3 separate regions of the Homo sapiens genome follow, and all the other regions are linked to region 2. Evidence: fine-mapped expression QTL. A gene starts in region 2. Each other region holds a variant in brackets. All regions are shown on one strand. Distances are from middle to middle.

Region 1 (8,170 bases), 240 kb after region 2:
GGAGAATCGCTTGAGCCTGGGAGGCAGAGGTGCAGTGAGCTGAGATCATGCCACTGCACTCCAGCCTGGGCGACAGAGCAAGACCCTGCCTCAATTAAGAAAAAAAGAAAAAGAAAAGAAAAGCATATATAGTAAATCCCATTTGAAATTGTTTTTCTGAGACCGAGTCTCACTCTGTTGCTCAGGCTGGAATGCACTGGTTAAGCTATCACAGTTCACTGTAACTTCCAACTCCTGGCCTTAAGCGATCCTTCTCCCTTGGCCTCCCAAAGCACTGGGATTATAGGCATGAGCCACTGGGCCCAGCCCCCTCTGGAACATTTGTAATGTTGTTGATTGGATCAAAACATTATATCTCTATTATTGTTGAATATTATCATGCAAATATGCTGTATGCTGTTATTTTTTTCTATTCAGAAAAAGGCACAAAACAACAACAACAAAATTCTTTTCACTCTGCTCCCACCAGCTCCCACCTAATTTCTTTGTTACCTTTTTCAGTAAAACCTCCAATTCTGCCCCCTTAAACCTATTTCAGTCAGGTTTCACACATGTGAGGTTGCCAGTGGCCTGCCTCCATAGTGCTAAGCCCCGTAGCCATTTCTGTCCTCATCTCATGGGCTCACCCCCACCCCACCTCCTGCACTGGCCTTTACCAGGCTTCCAGAACTCTACCCTCTTGTGGATCTCCTCCTGCCTCACTGTGTCCTCCTTCTCAGTCTTCTTCGCTGCACCCTCCTCTTCTTCTCAACTTTTTTTTTTTTTAATGACACAGAGTCTCACTCTGTTGCTCAGCCTGGAGTGCAGTGGCATGATCATGGCTCACCGTAGCCTAAACCTCTTGAGCTCAAGGGATCCTCCCACCTCAGCCTCTCAAGTAGCTGGGACCATGGCACACACCACAATTCTTGGCTAATTTTTTTTTTTATTTTTCATAGAGATGGAGTCTCACTATGTTGCCCAGGTTGGGCTCAAACTCCTGGCCTCAAGTGATCCTCCTGCCTCAGCCTCCCAAGTTATTTCCCAACTGTTTTTTTTTTTTTTCTTTTTGTTTTTGAGATGGTGTCTCACTCTGTTGCCCAGGCTGGAGTGAAATGGTGTGATCTTGGCTCACTGCAACCTCCACCTCCCGGGTTCAAGTGATTCTCCCGCCTCAGCCTCCCAAGTAGCTGGGATTATATGTACCCGCCATCATGCCTGGCTAACTTCTGTATTTTTGTAGAGATGGGGTTTTACCATGCTGGCCAGGCTGGTCTTGAACTCCTGACATCAGGTGATCCACCCACCTTGGCCTCCCAAAGTGCTGGGATTACAGGCGTGAGCCACCACGCCCAGCCTCCAACTTAATGTTAGTTCTCTTCTCTTTTCTGCCCATACTGATTCCTTTGACCTTATCCTGTTGTGGCTTTAAACAACATCTACTCTAGATTTCCCAAACTACTGACTCAAAAATCCAACTGCCTGCTCACATTTCTAATGGACACCTCCAGTTGATCACACCCCAGGCAGAACCCTTGAATTTTCCCCCCTTTAAACCTGCTCATCCACGGTCTTCCTTAATCCACTTGTTGGCATTTAAATCCTTCCTTATGCTCAAGCCAAAACCCTGCAAATCATCTTAAATGCCTCCCTTTTTCTTGCATTCTAGATCAAATCCTTCAGGAAATCCCATTAACCCTCACGTCAAAATACATTTCCCAAATCTAACGACTTCTTACCACCTTCACTGCAACCACTCTGGTCCAATTCATCACCATCTACCTCAGGGATTACTGCAGTAGTAGCTCCTAATTTACACCCCCACAGCCTGGTGTCCCCAAAGCAGCCAGAGTCGACCTTTGACAGCATATGTCAGATGGTGTCACCCTTCGGCTCAAAATGCTGCAGAGGCTCCTCATCTCACAGAGAATGAAAGTCGAGGATGCGTGTTGCGTCCCCCTTCCCTGGGCTGCTCCCTGACCTCATCTCCTAGCAGTTTCCCCATCTCTCGCCCTGCTCCAGCCTGCCAGCTTCCTGGCTATGCCCGAGATCACCAGTCCCATTCCCCTCAGGGACTGCGTTGCTGCTCACTCTGCCTGCAATGCTCCTGCACAGATATCTGTCTGCATCTCCTTCAAACGCCACCTCCTCAGTGAAACCCACCCTACCTGCTGTGTTTAAAATTGCAATCCCCTTCCAGCTGTCCTGGTCCCCTTTTATCCTGCTCTGCTTTTTCTTTTTCCTATAGCAATTTTTACCTGATGACACATTAAACAATTTACTTATTAGTTATAACAATTTACTTATATAAATTATATATATCTTATTTATATAACATATAAGAAAAAATATATAAAAATATATATTTTATATAAATAAAAAATATACATCTTTTTACAATTTATATATTATATATGTTTACATGTATAATTTATTGTATATGTTTACATATATAATTTATTGTATATGTTTACATATATAATTTATTGTATATGTTTGTATATTATATATAATATATAATGTTTATATATTATGTATGTTTATATATAATATATGTATTTCATATATAAATATATAAATATATTTATATATACATTTATATATATTTTATTTATAATATATGTATATGTATATATAATATATGTTTATATATAATATATGTAAACATATAATACATGTAAACATATATGTAAACATATACAGTCAAACATATATGTATATATATAATATATAACCATATATTATATAACATATGATATAAAAATAAATTGTTAAAAGGATATATATCTTATTTATGTAATATATAACATATGTAATATATATAAAAATAAATTGTAAAAAATATATATTTTTTTAATCATCCATCTCCTCCAATTAGAATGCATTTTTCCTGAGAACCAGGAATCTTTGTCTGCTGTGTTTATTGATGTATTCCAAATGCCTAGAACACTGCTTGGCACATAGCAAAACCCAGTGAAAAAATTTTTAGTGAATGAATGAATGGAATGCATGGAAACAGGGTCTGAACAGACACAAACTAAAACATCAAAATAAATATTCTGGGTAGAAGGATAGCAGGTCTTTTCATTCATCTGTTCTCTAATTTCTCTAAAATAAATTCAAATTACTTGAATAATAAACTTTTAAATGAAAAAAACAGTTTACTCCTGAGGATAATATTAATAGTAGTTTTAGTAATTTTTTTTAGTCTATGGTTTCAACTGTTCACCTTTAGAAGAGATTTTTTTGTTTAAATTGTGGGAGATCACAGTTTGTTTAAACTGTGGCAATAAAGGGGGAAAGCCTCCAATGATATCACTGTGAAGACCCCATGCCAGGCAGTGGGAGAAATTCTGTCTTGAGTTGAGGTCCCCCTGACCCTGTATTGAGTTGACTTGAGAGGTGGCAGATTGGGGAGAAGAGACAGAGAAGGAGAGGAAGCCAATAAAGGGAGGGTTATTGAGCCATTTCCATCATGGGCAACAGGAACTCACTCCCACAGACATAGAGTGTAGGGCACGCTTGGGGGTTACCCAGTCCAAGGGGAGATGGGGCGGGGATATTTATCCTCCAACATTGGTTGAGGCCTGTTTCTGGAGGCAGTAACACTTTAGCATCTCAGGCTTGTTTCATGTGTTCCCATGGCCAAAAAAAAAGAAAAAAAAATCCCTCGGTTACAGGGTTGCAGGCATTGGCAGTAAGCAGAAAGCCAGGGTAGGCACAGAGAAGGTCTCAACAGATTCCTCGATTCGACCCGATTCTGCTCTGTGGGTGGAACTCCCTTGTCCGTTGCTGTTTGAGGTTCCTGGCTATGCCCCGGGGAGGTTCTTCCTTGCCCACTTTCCCTCACGGCCACAATTGAAGGAGGGGATGGAGAAAGCACCCTTTTTGGAAGACTGTGCAGATCTTGGAGCCTGCTTTCTGGCCGTGTGTGTTTGGGAACTCAAGGACTGCTTTAAGCCTTGAACAACCAAAACTTTTGTAGCCTGGGTTAATGAACTCTTTGGCAATATAATTCCTTCAAATACTGAGTAAGCTTCTGCAATATTTGTTTCCATCATTCCCATGTGCCTATATACACACATGGTCACAATTCTTTAATCTGATTAATTTCTTTGCATCCTA[A/T]CCACTATACCTCTCTCCTTCAACTTAATAGCAGCCATCTTGAAGCCATCTGAAAAAAAAAATAGATTTGGCTGTGAAGAAAGCACCCTTAAAGTGATCTTTGCTGTGGTGATGAAACTGCCTGTTTAAAGAGAAGTCTTAACGGGCTTTGGTTGCTCAAAGCCTTTATTCCATGTTTTCACTTACTCTTTTGAAGTTCAAAACAGAAGACTCCACATTTCTGGACTCATTCTATTTCTTTTCATTTCTGCTCTTGAACCAGCACATTTTTGCCTGAGCTCAGCTCTTCCTTGTACTGACTTGCTAAACAAAGCCAGAAAGAGCCATGGTGCACTAACTTTGGGTTTACCAGCCTCTATTCTGGGAGCTACAGGCTCAGTAGACACATTGTTCACCAAGTAATTGAGGACAACAGTTTATGAAATGATTTGATACCATATAACATGGGTCTTCATATTTTCAGCCTCCAGTATCAATTTTCTTGCCTTCTGCTGCAGTGCTACATATTTTAGAATTTATTTTTAACCTCAGGATACTAGTGCAAAGGATTACATATTTTATTAATTACGGAACACTAGCTGCTGTACAAATAAACCCAAGGATTTTGATGGCTCAGCACGATGCATGTTTTGTTTTCATTGAAATAGTGCTGGGTGGTGAGCAGGTGGATAGGGGGTCCCCCTCCATGCAGTCATTCAAGGATTCAGAATGTCAAAAGCAACACCACCTTCAGAACATGGTTTCTAAGGTTAACTTTGGGACCATGTCCATTCTAGCCGGTCAGAAGACTAGAAGGGCGGGGCTGAGCTCTGGTAGGTTTGTGAGTCTGAGAACATTTTTCCACTCATGCCACTGGCCAGAGGTCAGTCCCATGGCTCCATTTAGATGGAAGGGGCTGGTCAGAGGGTGGGGGTTGTATTTCTGCCACGGGGCTATTCCATGGAAGGGAGAGAACCAAATTTTTTTTTAGCAAACAGTTAACTGATCTCCCACAGTTTAAACAAAAAATATAAATAGTATGAGCTTGCAGCTCTCTCCTCTACCCTCCAAGCCCCTTCTCTAATGATTTGTTTGGATCCACTGGAATGAGAGGATCTGTCAGGATGTTGTTGTGGGCTTGAGGTGAGAGGACCTTTCTCACCTAGTTCCATGTGGGAAGGAGGCCTGGAAGGAACAGGCAGGGTACCTTTAAGTAACTGTCTCCTTCTGGGAACTCACCTCACACCCTGCAAAGAAGCACAGCTAGGGTAACAATACTTCTCAGACTGAGAAATTACTAACTGCTGGTTTTTAGGATGTTTTTCAAGCAAGATAATTGAAAAGCTGAACCACTCTGCTCTTTGCTTCCCTGAGTGAGAGTAGGCAGAGGGACGGATGGAAGGAGGCAGGAACCCGGAACGACTGCTGATGCGGTGGGACACTTTTTCCCAATAATTACTCTTCGCTTGAATCACAGTGCATAGGACGTGGGCAATTTGCTCCAGCTAATGGTTCGTGTGGGATAGGTATTGCCTGATACAGAGGCAGGGGTTGGAACAGCCACTCTGGGGGCCAGTAAAGCCAGTTTTATGGAAGAAGCTGTCTTTGTTAAAAACCAAACCCAATCAACGTGGGGGCTTCCCAGCAGCAGACTCAACACCAGCTACACTTTTCTGAAATCCAGGCAGTCAGAAAAGCCCCCGGCACCCTCAGCCTAACACTGAAGCAGAGGAAATGAAACTGAAGCCATGTTTGCAGAATGTGGATTTTTGTGGTTTAGGACAAACAGCTGACTATCTACTCAGACCAAATGACCCTAATCAAGTCAACCCACAGAGATGAGGTTCTGGTTTACACAAAAGAGAGGCAGTTTGCTCACCATTTAAAATAATTCCTTCCTTCCTATACATTTTTTTTTCATTAAGATCTGACTACTGGTGCATTTAAAATATAATGCAGTTCATACTCAGCTTGTCAAGGGTAAGCAATTGTGTAAAGTGAGGCATATCTGTAATGGTGTACAGTCCCAGTAACTCCCTGGGCTCCAGGGCTGAGGGCAGCCCAGCTGTCGCTCCCACAAACAGGTGGTGTAAAACAATAGCTCTAGTGAGCCGACTCGCTTTCCAAACCCTCCAGCAGACAAGCACCCAGCCAGAGTGCCAGTGAGAAGCACAGGCCACCACTCTGCCCTGGTCCACACAAGCTCCGGTAGCCCATGGAGCCCTGGCCTCTCCTCCTGCTCTTTAGCCTTTGCTCAGGTAAGTGCTGGGGTCAGGGGTGGGGAGAGGGCTCTCCTTTGAGGCTAAAGTGCTGGAGGCCCCCAAATCAAAGTCTTGCTTCTTTGATGAGACCACAGAATGGCAGAGCCTCCCCAACCAGGGGCTGCTCTGTCAGTTTCTTCCTGATGTTAGCTTGATTGAGTTTTTGGATAAAGATTTTTAGTTTGCCTTATCTAATTAAAATAGAAACTGCCTGGTCAAAGACTTCAAGATAGACACGCATGTCTCTCCCTCCATCATGCCTGGCAGCCGACTCATCCCTCTGAACACTCGGCACCATTTGTAGGACCTGGACCACTTGTGGATCATGGTAGTGTCCGGGGGTTCATATTTAAACAACTATGGATACTTAGAACAGTGCCTTATAATCACATACAATGGAGTTAACAAGTCCCTTTACTGCTCCAGGAGAATTCTAATAATAAAGAGGACTGATTGACAGCTACATGTGCTGGAGATAGAAACCAGTTAATAATCATAACTAAACTCTCTCCACAGAGACAAATATTTTTTAATTTTTTCAAAATTTCTGAAGTTAAAAAAAATTCCATATGAATACATTCCTACCTACTTTTTTTTTTTAAGATGTTACTATATATAGGTTTGGGTTTGAATTGAAACTATAAAACCTTGCACAGCATTTGACCTGCATTCTACTCTGGAATGTGTCCTAACACAGCAGCTGAAACACCATCCTGAATCCCAGACTTCCGCTAGAGGGAAACAGGAGATGTTTGCTGATTGCTTCACATAAAAGTTTACTGGTGATATCATCCCAACTGAGAAACAAGGTGGCTGACATCCTGTGATTTTTCATTTCCAATATTGCTCTGAAAAACACAGGCCTTCTGGTCAAGAGGCAAAAAGCTTTATTATTAATTTTTTTCAATATCAGAGTTGAGTGAAAGAGCCTAAACTCAGATAAATTATATCATGTGGGATTTGGACTCTGTCCAGCCAAAGCTGGCCTGATGTGTGTGTGTGTGTGTGTGTGTGTGTGCGCGCGCGTGCACACACATGCGTGCACGCAAAACCACAGTCACAGGAAAATTCTTAAATGATATGCTTTAATGTAAACATCCTTAAGAGATCTCTTAGGATTTTGGTTATTGCTAACCAAAAATGCATGATTAGCTATTAAAGAAGTATGTGATATGTATTTAGGTCAAATCTCGAGTTTGCTGGCATTGATTTCCATGGGTGTTTTATAGAAATTTAGAGCTAGATCAGGCAGTCCAACATCCTCAATTTTTTATTACAAGGAAACTAAAGCTGACCTGCCCAAGGTCACTTAATTTATACATTTTGGAATGTGGTCAGTTGGAGACTTGGTTTATTACATGCACAGTCAGAAAACACAGCCTGAACTAGCCAAAGGTAGCAAGAGATACAGAATCAGGTTAAGATAATAATGATCCATGGGACTAGTAACAGTTCAAAATTTCTTTTGCCCAGCCCAGGGAGCTATTTCCTACATACAAATACAAATGGAACCAGTGTGGTACAAAAGGAACACTTTGAAACTGTGGTTGAGTTTCCCTTCTTAGAATCAGTCCTTTGTAGACAAAATTGTCATTTATATCAGGGACTCTTTTCCTGTGTTAGCTTAACACAGCGTGATCTCTGTTCTATTTATACAGCACTTTTCATTTCAACTTTTTCTTTTCTTTGCCTCTGGAATCTCAAGCACTTCATTGCCGTCTTTCTTACGGCATATCACTTTCCAACTTGTTCACAGTTATTTACGTAAATGACAAATGTCAATCTCCATGAGGGTAGGAAGAAGGATTCAGTTTTGAATATCTCGA
Region 2 (8,185 bases):
ATTACTGCACTCCAGCCTGGGTGACACAGTGAAACTCCGTCTAAAAAAAAAAAAACAAAAAACCAAACAGACCAAATAGCTGGATACAGTGGCTCATGCCTGCAATCACAGCACTTTGGGGAGGCTGAGAGGAGTGGATTGCTTGAGCTCAGGAGTTCCAGACCAGCCTGGGCAACATGGCAAACCCTGTCTCTACTAAAAATACAAAAATTAGCCGAGTGTGGTGGCATGCACCTGTGGTTCCAGCTACTCCAGAGGCTGGGGTAGGAGGATTGCTAGAGCCCACGAACTCAAGGCTGCAGGGAGCTGAGATTGTGCCACTGCATTCCAGCCTGGGTGACAGAGTGAGACCCTGTCTCAAAACAAAAACAAATCCACTTTAAACAAATTCACACAGTGGAAACAAACACTGTAACTAGTAACATAAATATGGGATAGAGAGAATGTCACATATTGTGAATATTTAAATAATTTTAACTTTCTTAATTTTAACTTTAGCAGAAGTATACTGTGTAACATTTTTCTCTTCACTAGCAAACTTCTGCACTATTTTGGGAACTGTGCTAATAGCACTGGTATTCCTAGTGTTTAAAGCTGTGTTGACATGACAAAGTACTATAATTTTAACTTGTTATTGTGAGGCAGAAACCGCCTCATTAATTTCTGCTTCATTGAAAACTGAGGAACAAATCAATGTTTACCAATGGGAATGAAGCTAAATGGGTAACAAAAAGAAATTCAAAACACTTGTGATAAGTCATTAGTTTAAAATGTAGGAAAACCATTTTAAAGGGTTGTCTAGGTTCTGTTTAGTCAACAAAACTTAAATAAAAATGAGAAATTGTTTTAGTAAATTTGAAATGGGTTGTTCAGTGCACACTTTTAATTTTAATCCTGTTAAACCAGAAAAAGGTTGCTTTCTACATGATTAATATAACATTATTAGTACAACACATTGCAGAAGAAATAGCAGTACCACTGGTTTGACAAAATATGACTTCTTTATTACATTAGGTATTTATGAACTTTAGATATAACAGCACTTTAAATATATTGAAGATTCAAATAAAAATGTCCTCTGTTTTATCCATAAACCAGTTAATTTAAAGATTTTAAAATATCACACAATGACAGATAAACCTAAAAGGGACATTAGAGATACCTTAGTACCATCCTTTCATTTTACAAAGGAGGAAGATAAGAACTAGAAACAGTAAAACATTTGTCTAAAAATCTGACAGCTAGTTAGTAACGAATAAACAAATCTGGCTCTTCTAAGCACTTGCATGTTAAGCACAAAATGAAATCATTGAATGAAAACATAAATATTTTGAGAAGTCAATTCATTCTTTGCCCTTCTTTTATAAACAATCTAAGTCACCACCCGTAATAATCACCTCCAAGCAGTTAACGCCCTTCCTTGCATTGACTCTGTAGCTGAAAGGCTGTGGCTTTATTTTCAGCTAAGTGAGAAAAGAAGCACATGCAATAGAATAGGAATAGCTCATTGAAAAAAATACGCTATTTTAAAAGCCAATACTATTTCCAAGACAGGCACTTTGATCAAGTATAGAGAGCATTTTGTTAGAGCATCAAACCATTTGGAAGTCAGTTGAAAGGAATGGCTCGTGGAAAGCAGGATGCTTTAAAGGGAAACATAGCAACATTCACACTGTTTTGTTCCAAATTGTACCTTAAAAACAGCTGTGTGTGTGTGTGTGTACGTGGGTGTGCGAGTAGAAAGGGGAGAGGAAAAGGATCTTCACTTGAGTTTAAGCAGGGTATTTCACTAGGATTCAGTTGTATTTGGCCAAACTAGTGAGTGGAAAGCTGGTCTAGTAACCAAAGGCCGGCTGTATGATGGGAGGGTAAATCTGAGTGCAGGGCAGCTCCTTTCTCTCTGTCTCACTCCCAGGACAACCCCTCAAGGGATGGAGAGAGCTACTAGCAAGCTGAGCTGCAGCACCAAAACCTTGATGCTCTAACAGAGCTTAACAAAGAGGAGAGAAAGGCATTGTTTCTCTTTTAGCATGATGGGACACATAGTTCTGAGTAGAAGGGCATGTTAATAAAAACTCTTTGAGACAAAATGCAACTTCCCAAACTCTATGCAGAATGGCTAAGGACAAAATACTCTCGTTATTTTGCTTCTAATACTAAACAGATTTTTCTTTTGAAATTCAAACCATGCAACCTCTAAATTGATGCGGGATGTGGGTAGGGAAGGTGGTCGGTGAGAACACCAGAAATCTAAGATTTTCCCATTGGTTCTGCTACTAAATAGGTGAACACATTTGGGAAAATCTTTTTACGGGGAACTCAATTTTTTTACCTATAAATCATGGGAGTTTTGGTCTTTTCCTATTCAAAATTCAATGGTTCTATTCTGAAGGAAAATATTTTCCTTTAAATTATAAAGGCAAAAACTTTCTGAGATTACAAAAAACACTTCCAGGGGCTCACCTAAGGTCCCTGAATAGCCCATAATCCCCTTGAAATTATGTGAAAAATTTCCGGTGAATGTGTGTATGTATGCAAGCACTTTTCTAAGAGGAGGGACAGTATTTTCATTAGAGCCTCAAAAGGAAATTTGGTCCAAAAATGTTGAAGACCACTAGTTGAAACAGTAAATGGAGTCTTCGGTTTCTGATTTATTTGGCTGCAGAGCAGATTAGCAGCAATCTTTATATGGTTATAAAATCTATCCCACAAAGCTTTCTTGAGTTTCTCATTTATTTTCATGAGCTGTGTGTTTGTAATTTTTTATGAGCAGAAAGGTTGTTCAAAATCAAGAGTCCATTTTCATGAAAGATTTTAAATTCTGGGGATTTTAAAGATGTATTTTGATTAGTGGCTAAAGAGAGCCATTTTACATCACAAAATTCCAAACATATAGCATCTTAAACACTTGCCCATTCATGTTGAATCATTTTAATATTTCTTTCTTCCTGAGTTAACTGACTTGAAACAAAAGGCTTGGCTCCTCCTTCCAACCTGCTTTTCTTCTGATGCTTAAGTCTGCTTTGAAATAATGATGGTGAATTAACTGTGGTTCCATTGGAAGTACTGTAGTAATCTCCCACTTTATCAGGATTCGATCTCTAAGATACATTAAATACAAGATATTTCTATAATATTCTTAAAGAATTATTTGAAAATGGGAGAGAAGACACTAGGGAACCTGAGGAACTAAGAGGAAAGACGCCTGTAGAAAGAAAGGAGAACCAAAGAGAAGATCTACATGATCAGATACCAAAATAGTATCAAATCCCTAAGCAGAGAAACAAGAAAAAAGAAGGAATTTCTTAAACAGGGAACACATATAGCAACTAGAGAAGAATGACTTTTTGAATACATTAAACGACAACGACGAAAAACATATAACCCAGCTTTTCAAGAACATCTTTTGGCTGACAATCTCAAGGCGTTGTATGGCTCCTCATGGCAGAGACAGAGGTGAGGAGACAACATCACAGAAAGGAGGACGTTGCCAGTGATTATCAGATAAATACAAGAAGCTCAGGGGAACAATCTTTTGTGGCAAATAAGTGCCAGTCAGTGACACATGCTGATTTTTTTTTCCTTGAGACAATATCAAAGAGGTATAATGTAAAGGGAAGAAAATCAGGTGTAAGCATTGGTCTTTTAACAAATTATCTTAGGTAATCTCAGATGCTTTTTAAGCGACTCCTTTTCCTAATGTGTGTCAATTTCATCAGAACTACTAGCAGCTCCTAAGTCCAAACGGAGAGGAATGCAGCTTTCAGTGCCTCTGTTCCTACCAGAGCCCTGCAGCTTCAGGTCACCGGCTCCAGCCACAGTGAGCCTGGAGGGCGCCAGGAGAAGAAATATGTTCTCACACGCACCAGGTCCCCAGATGACCCTGCCTGGGCGCTGCGTTCACTCAGCATCCTCCTGTGACTCTTCCTCTTTCGAGTAACAGCGTTTTTCTCCTCTCTGCGCCTCCTCAAATTCCATTCAAGAAAAAACCTGGGCTTTCAGCTAAAACGCACACCGGCCCCGCTCCATCCCGCTCCGGGCGGCCGCCTCCAGGGGGGCGCTGGTGGCTCCTCGCAGCCGCGGGAATGAGGGCGCACCCTCTTACCCCCGCGCGCGCCCGTTGCCATGGGAACGCACTCGACCGGGAAGCCCGAGGGAGAGGCGGGAGGCAGCGGCGCGGCCGAGCTCGTGGGAGACGCTATCGCAAGATGGCGTCTGCGAGGCCGCGGGATGCGGAGTGAGCGCGCCCCGCCGGGGGCTGTGCGAGGCTGCTGCTGCTCTCCCCGTCGCCGCCGCCGCCGCCGCCAGTGCGGCGCCGCCTCTCCGCCAGCCACTGCGCCGCGGCCAAGCCTCCTGCCTCGCAGGTACCTCCTCCCGCGCGCACGCTCCGCGCCTGATGGCAGCGACAAGTGCCGGCTCGCGGAGAGCTAGCGGGGCTCCCTGGGCCCGGTGCGCCCGACAATAACGCGTGAATAACTTTTTCTTGCAGCGGTCCCCCGCGTCCCGGCCTGCAGCCTCCCCGGGCGCCGGCGCCCCCAGCACGCCCCATCGGGCACCCCACTCTCTCCGAGGTGTGGGTGCGGCGGGCTGATGAGGTGATCCCTAGCCCGCCTGGGAGGAGCGCCTGGACTCGCGGGCGGCGGCGAGCGCCTTTACAATGGCCCTGACCCTGTTTGGTAAGTGCAGCCGTCTCCCCGCGCCGCCGCAGGTGGGCCGCGTCCCGGGGCTCGGGGGCGGGGGCCTGGGGGGCCTGGGCGCCCGGGGAGGGGGCGCGGCGCGTGGGGTCGGGGCGGGCCGGGGCCGCAGAGTTGGGGCGCCCGGGGCGCCGGCTTGCTCCCTCGCGCCTCTCCCATTGTTTCCTCTCCCGGCAGGGCCGATGGGCGTGTGCTCCCCTGGCCAATTCTCGGCTGGGAGGCTCAGAGGTCCTGGGTGTTTTGCAAACGCACAAAGATTCTCTAAGATGCCAACTTGGGAGTGAAGTTAACTGGTTGTTTTCAAACCTGCCTTTCCCGTCGGTAAATAAATCCTTGGAAAGTTTATTTATTTTGAACGAGGTATCTGTGAGTCCCCAGCCTCCTTGGAATTGCCAAATGCATGTGTTGCTTCCTGTTGGACTATTGGGGAATTTTTTTTTTGGACTCAGTATATTCCGTTGGAAATAAGTATGATTTGTGAACTGAATATGGGTTAAAATTGAAAATGTTTGCACTAACGAATGAGAGCAGACAGAATAAAGTTGGTTACCAGAAGATAACTGTAATCTCAGGAGACTGAGTATTCATTAAGAATGAAATGTTATTTTTGTGGTGTAATTACTGCAGCACTGTTGCTTTTGGTGGTTAAGACTTCAAGCTGTTTTTTTCTCAGTCTGCAATGACAATGGGTTGGGAAAAAGGACTGAAAAGATACATTCTTTCCTTTTACAAAACGACTATGGTACATACGTACCTGACTTTAAGAAAACTCAATATGTGAACATTAGACGTTCAAAGTATTCAGCTTTTTTGAAGAAGCAAAGTACAATGATATGTAATTGATAGCTACGAGAACAGCCTAAGTAAGTTATTCACAATATCAAGTTTCCAGTTCAGTTTTAATTATGTCATTTGATCAAACACGTTAGAGGTGTTACATACCTCAAATGCTTTTTGAGGTAAATACTTCCCAGTGAATTAAGCTGCTAGAATCAAAGTGTTACTTTTATTTAACTATCTTATTTTATAAATTAAACTTAGACCCAGAGAGGTTGTTTCCCAAAGTCACATGGCTCTTTTGTGGCAAAACTGAGCCTAGAATTCACTTCACCAGGCTTCAGTCTGGGACTGTGTTTACTGTGCCCAAGTGCATTACTAGAAGTGCCATTTCTTACTTGGTGATGATCCTCCATAGGTACTTTAAAAAAGTGTCTTCTTTTTCTGAAAAATAATAAAATTCTCGCTGTTTCTCAGTACCTTGTATCTAAGCATTATTTAATAGCAGCATTTTCCTTAAATGTGGACCTTTTTGGTACAAACATTTTCTTTCCTAAAGAGATATTTGGCATTTTCAAGGTGTGGTTTCAGAAGTAAGGTTTACAAGTCAACTTTTCAAATACTCGCATTCCTGACGAATAAAAAAGATAAATTGGGGTGAAAAATGCTCTTTTAAAAGGATTTCTAAATTCTAAATCTTTAACCACTGTGGTGAAGATGAGGAAGGGAAAAGCATGGAATGTGGCCTATAGAAGAAAGTATAAGAAATCACTCCCAGCCTTCAAAATGAATAATGTATCTTTAAAATTTTAAAGTCTACTTATGGGAAAATAGAATTCACTTCCCAAAATCCAGTTTGTTACAGTGTGAACGTTTCTGTGTTATAAAACAAAGCACTCTTGAGTGCAGAGGCTATTTGTTAAGTAGTGATAGAGCAGCAGCTGTTTTTAAAAGTGGTTGTACACCACTCATCAGTCATCTGGGATGTCTATTAAAAATGTAGATTCTTTTGCCCAAAGACATGGGGGAAGGGGATTTTAAAGTGACTCCCTTTGTGATTCTTATGCTCACTCAAGTTTGAGAACTGTTGTATTCAAGATAAATGCTAGGAGATTGGGTCAAACTCGCCCAATACAAAATAGCTTTTTGTGTATGTTGAGAGATGTACCTAAGGGTTAGAAGAAATGGATTTTATTTTAGATTTTACTACCTTTAACTAGTTGGTCTTAGTCAGAAGTGCCTCATGTCCCTTCATATTTACTCTTAATGACCAACTTAGAACAGAAGAGCAATGGAGCAATAAAGTTCTGTGAGATGGTAGTGAAAAGAGTTAGAGGCAGGGACCTAACCAGATCAACAGGATTTGTCAGAGCTCAGCAGAGTTTATACCTGAGGCTCCCCAGAGTAACGACTGCCAGGGCCCTATCTTTTGTATCTTGGTTGATTAGTTAGTGCAGTCCAGCAGTAGAGTCTAGACTAGTTATTTGCTTTGTGTTTTACATTTTCTTTCCATTCAGGCTTTTTATAAATTTAAGAAATGTTCTTTTTATAGGGAGTTGGTGACTTAGTTTTAAAAAGTGGAGCCTCTAACATTACCTGATTTTGTATTTGCATACATTTAATTTTTTTCACCTGTTAAGTATATTATAGGAACTCGAATACTTGTTAAATTAAGCTGAATAGTTAAGACTGTTTTATCTCTCATCCTCACTGTTAATCACCTTTGCTGCTTAACATATTTTTAATGCATATTAGTTTTATTTTGGGATAGAAGAACCAGACCCCAATCTTGAAAGATTTTACAGTCTCATTTGGGAATTGAAAATGTGCATTTTTGAAAGCTTAAGAATTTGCACCCGTTTTTCTTCTCCTTTCAAATGAACTCACATCTCATTATCAGCTTCGATATAGTTTTTAAATCCCCCAATTTCAAAAATTATCCAAATGTATTACAGACTCTGCTCGCTCACCTTGCTCATTTTTTCAGCAAACATCTGTCACAGCGTACAAGAGACATGGTCCTCTAGTGGCACTTCAGAGTCTTTTCTAGAACTATAGCGAATGCACCTAATTCACTAATTACCTAATTCCGTATAGTGAGTGGCACTTAACTATTAACTAATTCCGTATAGGCTTTGTGAGAACTTCCTTAGTAGAGAGCACATGTTTTCTAGTAATTACTGGGATAAAAGGAAAGTCTCAGATCCTTGAATATGGGAATTTGTGGCTGGTGTACCTGACAAAATGTCCTGATTGGCCACACCAATAGAGCCTTAGTTGGCAGAGCTGGGTGAATAAGCATTCTGCCAGCTCTTGCCTTGGCAGGAATCTCTGTCATTTATAGCTTAATGGGGCTGTGGTTTATAGCCCAGACCAACTGATGCGATTGGGAACTCAGTTACCGTCGGCTGGGCTGGCTGAACCTTGAATAATGGTCCTCTATCTGGGTAGAGTCACCTCTGGCGTTGCTGCTCACCCTCCTTGCCCCTTATTCTTGTTACCATTTAGTCACCATCTTACTACCATAGATCACTTCTAATAATGCTTATGATTTTGCTATAATTTTGTACCATCTTTCCTCAGACCCTTCTGCCATGGAAACCTTTTCATTATCTCACTTTATTCAGCATCTGTCACTAACCTGACACACCTACCTATGGACATCTTTTGGAGCAATTAAATAGCAATGGCATATTCTTTGTGATGTAGTTAGG
Region 3 (8,185 bases), 220 kb after region 2:
GATCCCCGTGTTCAGCATGGTATGGTGGTAGACAAAAGGACAAAAAATAACAAATGCTGGCAAGGATAGAGAGGGGAACACTCGCACACTGTTGGTGAAAATGTAAAGTAGTATTACCATTATGGAAACCAGTACGGAGATTCCTCAAGAACCTAAACTAGAACTACAGTATGATCCAGCAATCCCACCGCTGGATATACATCCAAAGGAAATGAAATTAGTATGCCAAAGACACTTGCATGTTTATCACAGCACTACTCACAATAGCTAAGACAGCGAATCAACCTAAGTGTCCATCAACAGATGAATGGATAAATAAAATGTGGTGTATCCAAAATAGAATATTATTCAGCCATAAGAATGAAATCCGGGCCAGGCGTGGTGGCTCACGCCTGTAATCCCAGCACTTTGGGAGGCGGAGGCGGGCGGATCAAGATGTCAGGAGATCGAGGGCATCCTGGCTAACACAGTGAAACCCGGTCTCTACTAAAAATACAAAAAATTAGCCGGGCGTGGTGGTGGGCGCCTGTAGTCCCAGCCACTCGGGAGGCTGAGGCAGGAGAATGGCGTGAACCCGGGAGGCGGAGCTTGCAGTGAGCCGAGATCGCGTCACTGCACTCCAGCCTGGGCGACAGAGCGAGACTCTGTCTCAAAAAAAAAAAAATAAAAATAAAAATAAAAAACTCCTGTCATTTGCAGCAACATGGATGAAACTGGAGGACATTATGTTAAGTAAAATAACATGTTACTCATGTGTGGGAGCTAAAAAAAACCGTGAATCTCATAGAAATAGAGAGAGAATGGTGGTTACCAGAGGCTGGGAAGGGATGGAGGATGACGAGACGTTGGTTAATGGGGACAAAAATACTGTTAGATAGAAGGAGTAAGTTGTAGTATTCGATAGTATAGCAGGGAAGTTATAGTTAATCATTTATTGTCTATGTCAAAATAGCTAGAAGAATTGTGACTCTCCCAACTCAAAAATGTTTGAAGTGATAGATTTCCCAATCAGCTGACTTGATAATTACAAATTGTATACAGGTATCAAGATATTATACGTACCCCCATATACATGTACAACTATTATACATCAATTTCGTAAAAGAAAGACCTTAGTGAAATGGGAAAAGTTCACTTGTCGCCCTTGCAGGGCGTGCGACACGGGGACCGGCTTGCTTCTTCAGTGCCCCATTACTCAGGCCTCTAGGGAGCATACAGACGCGAAGGCTACCGGGCTCCAACCCCACGGCAGTGTCGAGGGGTGGATGTTTACAGCTCCTGAAGCCCCAGTGGGCGTGTGCTACCCTGCGCTCTTTTAGTTTTGTCGTCTATAGGCAGCTTGTATTAACCAGCTCAATTAGACCCTCTGCCTTGTTGCAACAACAGGGGGCTTTCTGTATCCTGGGTGCTTGCTTTGCTGTAACTGAAGAATCGGATCACACCTGGGCTTGGAGAATGAGTGCAAGATTTTGAGTAAAGGCAGCTCTCAGCAGATGGGGGAAGTCAGAAGGTGATGGAGTGGGAAGGCTTCCCCCCTGGAGTCGACAGCTCAGCGGCCTGGGCTCTCATCCGACTGCCACAGCATCATTCTGCTTCTGCCGGTCAGTGGCCTAGTTCCTCCGCCATTGTGCTCCTCTCCACGTCCTGCCATCTGTGTGTCTGCCTGCTAGGGCCTCAGGATTTTTATAGGCACAGGATGGGGGCGTGGCAGGCCAGGGTGGTCTTGGGAAATGCAGCATTTGAGCAGGAAAACAAAAATGCCTGTCCTCATCTAGGCTCGTAGGGGTGGAGCCCTAGCCAGGGGCCACGCCCTTCCCTCCCCCCCCCCCCCCGCCCCCGCTTCCGTATCACTTAAAGGGACCACGCTCTTCCCTTCGGTATCATTAGGAAGCTCAACAGGAAGGGAGGTGGGGTTATCATAGGCTAGCCATTCCAAAATACTATTTGAAAATGGGACTGAGACCGTAGTTTGGAAAGAAGTACTTGTTCTGAATGATCAAAGGGGAAGATGATCAAAGGGGAAGATGACACAAACTCTATAAAAGGGTCAGATGTCTGTTCAAGGAAATGAAGCATTAAGGATCTGATTATTCTTTAGGTTTTTAACTGATCAGGACTTGCAGTTCTTGTGTTACCAAGGGCCTGGTTTTCTGGTCAGCAGCACACAATTGTTTTAAATCCCAACCACTCATCCTAGTAATCCAAGCCCCTGAGTAGCCACAGGGGTCTTGCATTTCCCCGGGGCAATGGCTTGAGGGAGAGTCTCCTGCCCCTCTATGATTTTCAGGAAGAACTGATTCCCTGTCCCAGGTTAGATGGGTCTCCAGGAATATCCCTTAGTGACTAGAACAGAGCCCTCAGCCAGCCATCCTGGAGCTTCAAGCACCCTACTGCAGTGGGTGGTACATCTGGGCCCCATATGTTCGCAGGGAGGGGCTGAAGAGCCCAGGCCTACATTGCCAGGTCACCCACCCATTTGATGTGTGGTCACAGTGGAATCTGGTTGCCATGGGGATGCGAGGTTTTCTACTCAGGCTGTTTGAGAAGCAAATTTTTCCATTGTGTATATGTAAGCATACTTCAACATCTTTAAATTCCTTTTCTTTTTCAAATAGCATTCAGGGTGGATTCATACATTTAAAGAAAAATTCTAAAAGGCAATTTCCCAGAAAACAGGCTTTTGGAGGGTAACCAGGGTTCAGCCTTTGTTGAGGGATGAGGATAGGAAGAAGGGGCAGGGGCCACTTTTCTGAAAGCACCCAGGTCTACCCGCGCTGTTTAACATCTATCTCTGTGCTGCTGCCAGAGGCTGGCCCAACAGTAGCAGAAGCTCCAGGGATAGGCCAAAGAAAGCATTTTTTTCTTCTTCAACCTTCAACAAGGAAAGTTTACCTTGTTTTCTTTCTTGGTATTCAGTAAATGATTCCACAGCCCAGGCCTCTCTCCTCTATCTCAACACACAGGAACAATTTTTTGAGCTTCTGTGGACTTCTTTTTGGAATATGGTAAAATATACATAAAATTACCATTGTAGCCATTTTTAAATGTACAATTCAGTGGTATTAATTATATTTACAGTGTTGTGCCATCCATCTACAGAACTTTATCATCATGACAAATAGAAACTGTACCTGTGAAACAATAACTCTCAGCTGGGCGTGGTGGCTCATGCCCCTAATCCCAGCAGTTTGGGAGGATGAGGCGGGTGGATTACTTGAAGTCAGGAGTTCAAGACCAGCCATGGCCAACATGGTAAAACCCGTCTCTACTAAAAATACAAAAATTAGCTGGGGGTGGCCACACACGCCTGTAATCCCAGCTACTCAGGCTGAGGCAGGAGAATTGCTTGAACCCGGGGGGCGGAGGTCGCAGTGAGCTGAGATCGTGCCACTGCCCTCCAGGATAAGTGACAGAGCAAGACTCTGTCTCAAAAAAAAAAAAAAAAACTCTCAAGGGGCATGATAGCTACCTGCAGACCCAGCACTTTGGGAGGCTGAGCCAGGCAGATCACCGCTTGAGCTCAGGAGTTCAAGACCAGCCTGGGAAGCTTGGCAAAACCCAGTCTTTACAAAAATTACAAAGATTAGCCAGGTATGGTGGTGCATGCCTGTAGTCCCAGCTATTCGGGAGGCTGAAGTGGGAGAATCACCCTAGCCCAGGAGGTCAAGACCGCAGTGAGCAGAGATTGTGCCACTGCACTGCAGTCTGGGTAATAGAGTGAGATTCTGTCTCAAAGAAGCAAACCAACGACACACACACAATAACTATGCCCTTCTTTTCCTAGCCCCCGCTAACTACTGTTCTATTTTCAGTCTCTGTGAATTTGCTTATTCTAGGTACCTGATAGAAATGGAATAATTCTATAATATTGTCCCTTGGCGACTGGCTTATTTCCCTTGGCACGGGTTCAAGGTGCATCCATGTTGTAGCAGTCTCAATGCTTCATTCTTTTTAAGGCTGAATCATATTCCATTATATAGATGTGCTGCATTTTGTTTAT[C/G]CATTCATCTGTGGATGGGCACTTGGGTTTTTCCACCTCTGGCTATGGTGAATAAGGCTATGGTGCACAAGGGTCTGTTTGAGTCCCTGCTTTCAATTCTCTTGGATATATAACCGAAGTAGAATCGCTGGATTGTAAGGTAATTCTATGATTCACTTTGTAAGGAACTACCAAACTATTTTCCACAGCAAGCCCGGGAGACTTCTGATTAATGCGTTTCCTGGAGCAGCTGAGGATTGTTTTCCAATAGAGTTTGGCAATGAGAACAATGGCATCTATTTTTTAATTCTCTTATTCACTTTCTATTTTTCTCTGAAGGTTTCTGTATGTCTTCTTTGTTCAAGATTCTCCTATTGACTGTTAGATATAACATATCTGGGGGCATCACTGAATTGATAATTGATTGATTGGTGGACAAAAACTGGCAACAAGGTGGGGTGAAGCAAACATTCTCCTGCTTTTCCAAACCCTCCTGTGGATCCAGCAATACTTGGCTTCCACCGGTCATTCACAGGGACCTTCATCACAACATCCTCTCTCACCCTCCCCACTCCCAGCTTCTGTCTCCCCCAGTCCATCCTCAGGACCAATGGAGTGTTCCTTCCCTGGACTCATTCTCCAAACTTCCACCACACTGGAAGTCTCTACAGCGTTGTCTCGTGTTTTCACTGTTATTCCTAATGTTTTGTCTTCTTGGGGCAGCATATTCCCACCCCTCCCACTTCCACACATACAACAGTCCCAGATATAAGGCTAAGCTCATCATAGAACTTGGAAAGTAAGAGCACACTGACTCACGACCCTGGTCATAGACTTGGACAAATGCTGCTTGGAGGTCCCAGAAGTAAGGAAGCCTGGGGTAAAGGAAGCAGCCATTTCTAGACATGGAGACTGGATTTTGCTTTTCTCTTTTGCATATTCTCATAGTGAATATAAAATATTCAAAGAAAGACATGTAACTGAAGAGTTTAATGAATAATTTATAAAGCAAACATCTTTGTCACCACCACCCAGGTTAAGAAGAAAAACATTGCCAGGCACCCCAGAAGTCCCTGTCCACCCTGGGAAAGAAAGTCTGGCTGATTCTGATTCCTTTCCTTCCCCTGGGTATCCGTATCTTGTGTTTTATAAATTTTTTTCCATATTTTTGCTACTTTTGTATGCATCCCTAAAAAAAATATGGCTTTGTTTCTGAACTTCACATGAACAATATAATGCTGTATATATTCTTTTTCGATTTTCTTTGTTCACTCGACTTTATGTTTGTGGGTTATGACCATGTTGTTGCCCTAGCTGTAATCAGTTCATCTTTACAGATGGATAGCATTCCACTGTACAAATATAGCTCAATTTATGCAGGCCATCTATAACTGTTGATGGGCATTGGGTTGCTTCCAGCATGGGGCTATTAGAAAAAACACTCTCATGATCATCCGTATACATCTCCAGATGCAAAGCATGTGCCTAGGAGCAGGGTTGCTAGGTCATGGTGCCAATGTATCTTCGCCTCTCCTAAATAACGAATGCTAGCCTGTTTTCCTAAACTGTTGTGTCATTCTCACTCCCACCCTAGGTGAGAAAGTGCCTACTACTCCTTTGCTCTCCAACACTCAGAAAATGCTCTGCAAATCCATGAACACAGAAGGCTGCTTATCTATTTCACTGGAGCTAAAAATGTTCAACAGCCACATCCTTGACCTTGGAGATCTCTAAGCTCAGAGGCCCTTGGAGATCTTTCCACAGGATCTCCTGCCCCAGTTTCAGAATAGTGGGAGTCAGGGGAGACTGGAACAGAGATGACAATTGCAGCTGGGCAGGAAGGCCCTGAGGGCACTTAGCAGTCACCCTGGAGTTGTAAATGGCAGAGCCTCGCCAGCTACAGACCCGCCAGCCAGTTGCACAGCATACATCAAAGGCTCGAGATGCCCGGCTGTGGGTTTAAATGGAGCCCAGGTGTAGCCTGCAAACTCCCTCTCTTCTCCCCCACTGAGCTACACCTCCACTTTACACGCTGAGCTTGGCAACCTCAGCACGACCAAGGCTGTGGGGTCAGAGTTGCTCTCAGTCTTGCCAGCTAGGAACGCTCAGTTAGGCTTGGTGATTAGAACCCACCCTATGAATAGAGCAGAGATGCTGTGTTAGACCAACTACTGTTCCAGAATCAAGTGATTCGGATCATGTGTGTAAGCAAATAAAAAGTTCAATGTTGTGAATTGAGAAAAAATTTACGTACCTCCTTATTACAAATTTCAAGCAGAAGAGATAAGTACGAAGAATACAAAATCACTTAAAACTCCACCATACGGAAACAACCATCACAAACATTTTGTTCATTTTCATTCCATATATCTCTCAATGCAAATACACAGATGGAAAAAAGAATGGAAGGAAGAACTGAAGAATGGATGGATGGGTGGAAGGATGGACAGATGGACAGATAGATGGGTAGGCAGGTGAGTCCGTAGATGGGCACACAAGTTATAGATGTAATTCTAGAAATAATCCTACAGTACATGTTATTTTGAACTGAAAATGTGTTCCTTCTCTTTAGAAACTATTACCTGTTGCTTTCTTCCTGTAAGTACAGGAGTAAGATATTCTTAATGCAGAAACCTGGAGATCATAGAACACAAACTAAAAAATGCACTCATATTCCACCACCAGAAGATTACTGTTAACATATATGCATACGTATGTATATAGGTATGTTATGGACTGAATGATATCACCCCATAATTCACGTGTCAAAGCCCTAATCTTCAATGTGACTGTATTTGGAGACAAGGCCTTTAAAGAAGTAATTAAGGTTAAATGAGGTCATAAGGCCCCTAATCCAGTAGGGCTGATATCCTTATAAGAGGAGGAAGAGACACCAGAGATCTCTCTCTCTCTCTCTCCATGTGTGTACAGAGAAAAGGTCATGTGAGGACACAGTGAGAAGGTGGCCGTCTGCAAGTAAGGAAGAGAGCCCTCACCAGAAACCAACCCTGTTGGCACTCTGATCTTAGACTTCCAGCCTCCAAAACTGTGAGAAAATAAGTATCTGTTGTGTGATCCATCCAGCCTGTATTACTTTATGGCAGCCCAAACAGACTCAAACAAAATACAATGTAATATTTAGCAATGCACCTCTGTCACCTACCTCCATGGTCCCTTTTTCAGTCTTTATTCTGTTCAGTGGCCAAGGGCCAAGGACTCCCTGTGATGCCAGCCTCTGGGCACCAGAATGGAACTACTCAAAAGGGCAACAGCAGCCCCGCAGGCCTCCCCATCCTCCCACCCAGTGTAGGCTCAGTAATAACTGAGTCTTCATAGCTACAATGCCTTGAACCAGATTTTAAAACAAACAAACCATGCATGAAATTGATACAAAAAATAAAATGCTGCTTAAGTCTGTCCCTAGATCCAGCTCCTAGGGGAGTCCCTTCTCCCCTACAGAATGCATTGGCCTCTGTCATCACACCACCTTCTCCGCCATCAACACAGGGATCGGGAGGAGACCAGACATGTTGTCCAGACCCAGGCTCTTGTGAAAGGTCTTTGGGTTTTGGACAGCAGTATCCAAAGCTTTCCAACTTCTTCCCTATGCTAGGGAGAGGCGAGGCTCTGTAAGTGTAAGCCTAAGGGGGTGAAGAGGCCTCGTGCTCACAATCCCTGTCTCCAACCTCATTCCTTATTCCTACTAATCTTCCTGGTGCCCCTTCTTATCCAAGCCCCTCATGTGATCCCTACACCCAGGGCACCCACCACTGCATGTCCTCACTTGCATCAAAATATCTCCAGCTCCCATCCTTAGAACTGTCGCGTGAGCCATCCCTTAGTAATATGATGGTCAACTCCGTGAGGGGATTGAGCTTGTCATATATTGCTGTTCCCAAGCTACCGGTTTGCATTTTAAATGGGTCTTTCTGAAAGCAACGGTGTACTCTTAAAAACATGGCTCCCCCCAGAAGCTGCGTGCCATGAGCCTGATTGTTGGGGCTCTGCAGGGGCCTGCAGGTGTGTGGACGCTTGGATCATACTGAGCAAGGGGCTACCTACCCCCTCTATGCCTGAGACCAACCTGACTTCTAAGGAGATGGTGGAAGGGGAGCAAAGAGAGAGGATACCTCCGCATTTCTGCTCTGGGCCCCGCTCTGTGGGGGCGCAGAGCAAGCTCGCTGTGTTCAGCCCAGCCGCAGTGCC

What was found. PIP is the estimated chance that this variant, and not a neighbour inherited with it, causes the effect.
Region 1: its variant is fine-mapped to the expression of CHN1 in tibial artery (GTEx, PIP 0.91).
Region 3: its variant is fine-mapped to the expression of CHN1 in whole blood (TOPMed, PIP above 0.99).

The regions. Positions count from the first base shown.
Region 1 is chr2:174,762,523-174,770,692 of GRCh38, reverse strand. CHRNA1 (cholinergic receptor nicotinic alpha 1 subunit) reads left to right here and starts at 6,221. Exons shown (of 9, transcript NM_000079.4): 1 at 6,221-6,341. The coding sequence starts at 6,299. RefSeq lists an enhancer at 5,721-6,220. The variant A/T (reference allele first, on the strand shown) is at 4,105.
Region 2 is chr2:175,001,385-175,009,569 of GRCh38, reverse strand. CHN1 (chimerin 1) reads left to right here and starts at 4,189. Exons shown (of 13, transcript NM_001822.7): 1 at 4,189-4,676. The coding sequence starts at 4,658. RefSeq lists a silencer at 4,429-4,488 and an enhancer at 4,473-5,019.
Region 3 is chr2:174,782,258-174,790,442 of GRCh38, reverse strand. It overlaps LOC124907908 (a long non-coding RNA gene), which reads left to right and starts at 2,493. Exons shown (of 2, transcript XR_007087311.1): 1 at 2,493-2,569; 2 at 5,574-6,224. RefSeq lists enhancers at 1,608-1,902, 2,315-3,130, 7,789-8,185. The variant C/G (reference allele first, on the strand shown) is at 4,001.